Homo sapiens: one gene and its partner. The protein of the gene in region 2 purifies or fractionates together with the protein of the main gene of each other region. This does not show direct contact. Each region holds a gene or a part of one and is shown on either strand. Other genes may lie near its edges. The genes, in order: MILR1 and CSN3.

Evidence for each region.
Region 1: the proteins of CSN3 (region 2) and MILR1 purify together in Homo sapiens (co-immunoprecipitation; one large-scale study listed by IntAct). This does not show direct contact.

Annotation. Positions count from the first base shown.
Region 1 is NC_000017.11:64,455,598-64,459,425, reverse strand, and holds part of MILR1 (allergin-1 isoform Allergin-1L precursor), read right to left. Parts: intron 2,027-3,828; coding exon 1,742-2,026; intron 1-1,741. UniProt on the Homo sapiens protein: Immunoglobulin-like receptor which plays an inhibitory role in degranulation of mast cells. Negatively regulates IgE-mediated mast cell activation and suppresses the type I immediate hypersensitivity reaction.
Region 2 is NC_000004.12:70,245,402-70,248,897, reverse strand, and holds part of CSN3 (kappa-casein precursor), read right to left. Parts: intron 1,081-3,496; coding exon 1,048-1,080; intron 1-1,047. UniProt on the Homo sapiens protein: Kappa-casein stabilizes micelle formation, preventing casein precipitation in milk.

The DNA of each region.
Region 1 (3,828 bases), on a different chromosome or scaffold from region 2:
TCTCGCTCTGTTACGCAGGCTGGAATGCAGGGCACGATGATCACAGCTCACTGCAGCCTCGACCTCTCAGGCTCAAGCAATCCTCCTACCTCATCCTCTGAGTAGCTGAGACCACAGGCATGCACCACCACACCCGGCTAATTTTTTTATTTTCTGTAGAGACAGGGGTTTTGCCATGTTACCCAGGCTGGTCTCAAACTCCTGGGCTCAAGTGATCTGCCAGCCACAACCTTCCAAAATGCTGGAATTACAGGTGTGAGCCACTGCACACGACCTAGTTTTCCTTCTATCCTCCTACCTTGACAAATGCACCTTCAGAAGGACCTGGAAGGTCAGGTTTGAATCTGGAATTCTCAGACTTTCCAGAGTTTGGCATCAGGACGTGGCAGCATGGACAGAACCCACTGAAGTCCCGGGCTGCCCCGCTCCCGACCTGGGCTCTGACCTGCACCCTAAGGGGCCTTGCATGCACGTGGACGCCCCAGCCCACATGTGCAAACACCATCCACACCCCCCATAAACAGCTCCCTTGGCTCAGGTTCAGGGATGCTCATACCCTTACTGTGGGCCACCCTCGGGAGGATGAGCTGGGGGAGAGACTGGTACAGGCCCTGGAAATGGCTTCTGATCTGATTGGGCAGGGGATTTTGGTCCAGGTACCTAGAGTGTGGAGCAGAAAAGTGGGAGTATAGGGTTCAGGTGGCTGCATCCCCACGGCTCCCTGAACCCCTCAGCCTAGGGGAAGGTGCATAGCCTGGAGGTACCAGACCAGAGCCCACTAAACACAGGGCTTGGCCAGAGGCCTCTCTTGCCCTGAGCCAAGGGTGGTGCAGGAGTCTGGACCCATCATCATTAGCAGTGGAGCAATAAACAGCCAAGCAGGAGGGCATGGTATTAGAAATCAGTACAAGATGGCCAGGCACAGTGGCTCACAGCTGTTATCCCAGCATTTTGGGAGGCCGAGGTGGGCAGATCGCTTGGGGCCAGGAGTTCGAGACCAGTCTGGCCAACATGGTGAAAACCCGTCTCTACTGAAAATACAAAAATTAGCCAAGCGTGGTGGCGGGTGCCTGTAGTCCCAGCTACTCAGGAGGCTGAGGCACAAGAATCTCTAGAACCTGGGAGGCAAAGGTTGCAATGAGCTGAGATCACACCACTGCACTCCAGCCTGGGCAACAGAGTGACACTCTGAAAAAAAGAAAAGAAAAGAAAGAAGGAAGGAAGGAAGGAAAGAAGGAAGGAAGGAAGGAGGGAAGGAAGGAAGGAAGGGAAAGAAAGGCAGGCATACAAGAAGGAAGGAAGGAAGGAAGGAAAAGAAAGAAAGGCAGACATACAAATGATGAAAAAACAAAGAAAACTAAAAGACCTGGCAGTTCTAAGACAGATGCAAATTGGAAAGGCAGGGCAGAAAGTTTTGCCACAAGTCCCCCTCCTGCTCCAGTTTCTAGGCCTTTCTGTGGTTCCTTTATGGCAGAAAGCAACCCCATGAGAGTTTGCATGGACTCTACCAAAGAGACCCTTCAAGTGATCTGCCAGCCACAACCTTCCAAAGTGCTGGGATTACAGGTGTGAGCCACTGCACACGACCTAGTTTTCCTTCTATCCTTCTACCTTGACAAATGCACCTTCAGAAGGACCTGGAAGGTCAGGTGGCCATGGTGGGAAATGGGTGGGCAGAGGAGCAGCTGCAGTTTCTGGAAGTGAGTTCAGACCTGGCTGAAAGAACTCAGGTTGCTCTTACCTGTTGAGGGCATGGTGACAGGGTGACTGTATGTTGCATAGTTAGGCAATCTGTTTTTAGCTTCACACCTATACTCTTCCTCTTCTCCAGGATTCTTCTTGGTTAAGTTAAATTCAGCAGGCTCCCTGTCATACTTGGAAATAGCTGGTGATATGGCAACATGGTTTTCAAAGAAAGTGTAATTGATGGGCAGCGAGCCATTGACTGAGAGGCAATGTAATGTTATATGTCGGTCTGTTTCTGTTTGAATGACCATAATGTTCAGCACTGGGGAAGTCACCGGGTCTGGAAGAATGAAAGTGAACATGAAAAGGATAAACAGACTGGGTGTGCTCACTCAGACCACAAATATGAGTGGAACCCTTACTCCACTCCAGGCTGTGGAACCAAGATGAACGACCCCCTTCCTGAGAAGTCAAGAAGCTCACGGCCCACTGGGAAAGGCCAATGGGCATGTGGCCAACCCCGTGCAGTGTGTTGTTAGCCGAGGTTCTCAGCTGAGTGCTGAGAAAGCCAGAGAGTGGAGGGCATCTCTCTGCTTTGAGGAATTGGGGTGCAAGCTTGCCCTTCCTAGAATTCACAATCTATTTATTGTTAATAATGAATATAATTTTGTCAATGATCCAGTTCTAAGTATGAAGCTGAGAAGTGCTTTTTTATGTTTATTTTTTATAGACATAGGGCCTTACCATGTTGGCCAGGTTGGTCTTGAACTCCTGGCCTCAAGTGATCCTCCCACCTTGAATTCCCAAAGTGCTGTGGTTACAGGCAGGAGCCACCACACCCGGCCCAAGAAGTGCTTTTATTCTCAATCCTTGTAAATTTACAGTGGGTTTTTTTAATCCAAAAATATCATTTTCTTTTCAATGTATTTATTTATTCAGAGACAGGGTTTTGCTCTTTCAACCATGCTGGAGTGAAGTGGCACAATTATAGCTCACTGTAACCTCAAACTCCCAGGCTCAAGTGATCCTCCTGCCTCAGCCTCTGTAGCTGGGACTACAGGTGCACACTGCTGGCTAATTTTTAAATGTTTTGTAGAGACAGAGTCTCACTATGTTGCCCGGGCTGGTCTCAAACTCTTGGCTTCAAGTGATTTTCCCACCTCAGCCTCCCAAAGTGCCGGGATTTCAGGTGTGAGCCACCATGCCCAGCCCCAAAAATATCGTTTTCTCCAACTGTACTTTTATTTATAGAACTCAGCTGCACAATTATCTTTCACTTCCTCCAAAGAGCAGGAAGTAACCCTGCTAACTAGATTCAAGAGAAATTCTCAACAGGAAATGGGTCTGCTACACTCTGTTAGATCATAGCCTATTCTATGACCTAACAGAAAAACCCAGCTATACATTTTATTATATATATATATAATGCATTAATAAGACAGTATTATAGGAAAGGAAGAAAAGCTGTTAAGTATCTATCATGTGCCAGGCGTGCCAGTCACATGATCTCATTTGACCTTCACGACAGTCTTGTAGTGTGGATAGTATCATGCCCATTCCACAGATGAACCAACTGTGCTTCAGAGAGATTGAGAAATTTGCCCAAGGTCACACAGCTAGTAAATGGCCGAGTTGGGACTGACTTCAAGAGTCCACACTTAAAAACAATTTTTTTTTTATTTACTTTCTTTTCTGTTTTGAGACGGAGTCTCACTCTGTCACCCAACCTGGAGTGCAGTGCCACGATCTCAGCTCATTGCAACCTCTACCTCCCAGGTTCAAGCAATTCTCCTGCCTCAGCCTCCCAAGTAGCTGGGGATTACAGGTGCCCACCACCATGCCTAGCTAATTTTTGTATTTTTAGTACAGACAGGGTTTCACCATGTTGGCCAGACTGGTCTTGAACTACTGACCTCAAGTGATCTGCCCCCACTCAACCTCCCAAAGTGCTGGGATTACAGGCGTGAGCCACTGCAGCCGGCCCTGTGTTCTCTTTAAACATTTGATGAGTGAGCACTTTGGGAGGCCGAGGTGGGCAGATCACGAGGTCAGGAGATTGAGACCATCCTGGCTAACATGGTGAAACCCCGTCTCTACTAAAAATACAAAAAAAAAAAAATTAGCCAGGCGTGGTGGCAGGCG
Region 2 (3,496 bases):
AGTAAGATATTAGAAGTATGGAACCCAGCAGCAATATTATTTTATAAGATGTTGATTTGTACATTGCCTTTCCACTTTATGATTTTCAATATTATAAATATTATTTTGATAATATTAATATAATATTTGTTTCAAGAAATTAGATGAGTTTATTCATAATGTAAACCATATTGCCCAGAGATTGGCATATATGGAAAGTGATCTTATATGTTAGCTATTGTAGGTACAACACAGAGAAAAATCTCATTGAGAACTTTGACATGTTATACACAAGCACAACATGCAGACACACACAGAATGGCGCACACACACGTATGTATTCTCACCACATATTTGTAATTGGTCTCAAATTTTATTCATTTAAAAATTAGCCCAAGAGCACATTTATTTTTTCCTAAACTATAGCAGAATAGTAACATAATGTGATGTGGAGAGATTCCTGGATTTAGATTTTGGATTTTTTTTGGTTTAATTTTCTTCACAAAAGATTAGATAAAGAATTGTCTATATCTATGTGCCTCTGTTTAAAAATTTGTCAGTAGACCTTTCCATATGAATAGAAATAAATTGACAAAATTATACTACAAAGCAAACATTTCTCCTAAAACGAGACACATTTAAATGTATTCAAACATATTTGGGAAACGAAAGGGGAAGTAAATATAGATGTATGAGAAGTATTCAAAGATGGGTCAGAAAAGGATCTTCCCTTGTCTTAAAAAGTGGAAAGGGGAAATATTAAGCTTTACTTATGTTTTCATTTTTTTCCAATATGAAATGTTGAAAGAGTTTTCTCATATTGCTAAATATACATGAAAACCAAAGATACATGATTTGGGTTATATAAGAAAATAAAACTTTCAGATGAACATCAATGTTGATTCATATCACCTGTTGCTGAAATTATTTTCTTGCAAATATTATTAGATTGTTTTATGGAAATGAAATATTTAGGTTTTAGACAGAAGGCATCTATAATACAATTGACCTTTGCAGAATATATTTTGTAGTTCATGCCTGTAACAGAAGTAATTAAAATAGACTTACTGCTGGTTGTTTCTGGTTTTGAACCTCCACAGCCTGGGGAGTTCCAGAAGAAGAAATAATGAGAAATAAGTTAAAAAAGAAAAAAAAAGTACTTAAATCAGTTAAAAAAATCTTTTGTGTTAAAGACAAAATATGTTTTCTTTTTATTTTTTAAAACATTTTTCATGAGTGATCTATGAGGCCTATGGACTACTTAAGAAGCAACAGTAGTCTAACTGATTAGTAATAATAAACTGCATGTTTATATTGTCTTTAAACATCACCACCTAGAATGAAAAAGTCACTGTGGGAAAAATCTAGTCATCTGACTCCCATGCCAACAAATATGCTTAAATGAAAAATATGAATAATTTCTATTTAGTTTTTATTAAATATACATTGTTAGATTGTTAAAAATTAGAGGAGCATTGAGCCTTTTTTCCTTTCTCTGCTCTCATACTAAGATGATTCATAAGGTTTACTTAGAAGATTTAAAATATTGCCTCTTGCATAAACTTAACATATAAATAATAGTGTTTTTAATACCATCTTTCATTTGTTTTTATAGTGCTTTTCTTAGTTTTGGATTGTGACATATTTAGAGAATCAGGAGTGAGAAAACAATTTTTATGGACACATATTTATAAAACTAAAAACTCCAAAGCTTTTAGAAACTTTTGAAAGGAGGTATAATATTAAATATTTTTAAATTGACAGTTCTGTTTTAGGACATTACACATGTATTCCTTGGGTATAAAATGACTCTAGAAACCTTTTGGAAGGTGTGAGTATAGAAAATCAGAAAATTGAGAAGGTAATAAAGTTTCCTTGCTTTGAGACAAAGACTTGCTTTTCTTTAAATATATTAAATCATTAGTTTAAAATGTAAAGAAGTAATATGAGGCCGGGCACATGTCTCACCCTGTAATCCCAGCACTTTGGGAGGCAGAGGTGGGTGGATCATCTGAGGTCAGGGGTTCAAGACCAGCCTGGCCAACATGGTGAAACCCTGCCTCTACTAAAAATACAAAAATTAGCTGGGCATGGTGGCGGGCACTTGTAGTCCCAGCTACTTGGGAGGCTGAGGCAGGAAAATCGCTTAAACCTGGGAAGCAGAGGTTGCAGTAAGCCAAGATTGTGCCACTGCACTCCAACCTGGGCGACCAAGCGAGACTCTGTCTCAAAAAAAAAAAAAAAAAAGAAGTAATATGAATATTGTAGAAAGTATACTTTAAAAAATTCTGACAATCTAGATACCTTAATGCGATATCAACCTATGTTATGTATTCCTGGTATATGCTTGTCTAAAAAGTATCCTGCATTTTTATAGGAAATGTGGTGTCTCTTTTTTTTATTTATATCATAGGTTTCATAGTTACATTTTTATAGTTGATAACTAAGTGATCAATGATTATGTCATGAAATGTTTATTTCTTATCGTTATCTATTAAGATAAAATTTTAATTATAAACAGAGTGATGATTAACATCTGTATACCAGTGGCCTTTTTAATAATTTTCGTTAATACCTTAAAATGATTTTTCACAAATGAGATTTGATTCTTTGATAGAAATTATGAAATTGTGGTATAGAAAAGTTGTGTCAAATTATAATGTCACCAATAGGCTATGTGTTTATGCAGTTTAGTGCATAAGTGCTAGTAAAATATTATCTAACTATTTTTATTTTGGGGGAAGGGATAAAATAGTACATATAACATGGTATCACATTGATGTTTTAATTTGTATAAATTTGACTACTCATAAGATTGAATGGTAAAATCAATAAATTTTTTTTTTTCTGTATATTTGTTCATGTCCCTGAGGCCTGAAGCCTTTGTGAAAATGGGAAGGAATGTTTGAAAGACGAATCCGGCTCAGGTAGCTCAGGAAGAGGTTGCTATGCAGCAGGGATTTGTAGATCATTTCATGATTTAAACTTTAAGCCCTATTACTCAAAGAGACAACCTAAGTTCCAAATGTTCAGGTGACCACAAAGTATTGAGTTGTAGAACTCAAAGTTTTAAAAGGTAATTTTGACTCCAAGAATTGACCTAATAGAATTAATGGACATGTTATACACAAGCACAACATGCAGGTAATAGAATTAATTAATAGATGTTAACTTAAAAGCAACTCTAAACTTAATAATAAATAAATATTACAGAGATTCACAGAACGAGGACTAGTGTTCCTCAAAATTTTACAATCTAGGAGGAGGACATATACCATTATTTATGCTTGCCTCCTTTGTCAGTGCCTAGAATACCCAGATGAACAAGAAAATAAAAAGAGGCAATAGCCAAAACAACAATAAAAACAAGTCAAAAAATTAAAAGAAAAAAACAGAACCTTTTTCTAAGTCCAGTAGCCTTAAAACATTGCATATAATTCAAGATAATGCCTGCAAGCCTTCAAGCTGTTTATAACCATTGATCCCTGGAAAGGGGTCAGTCAATTGACATAATGGG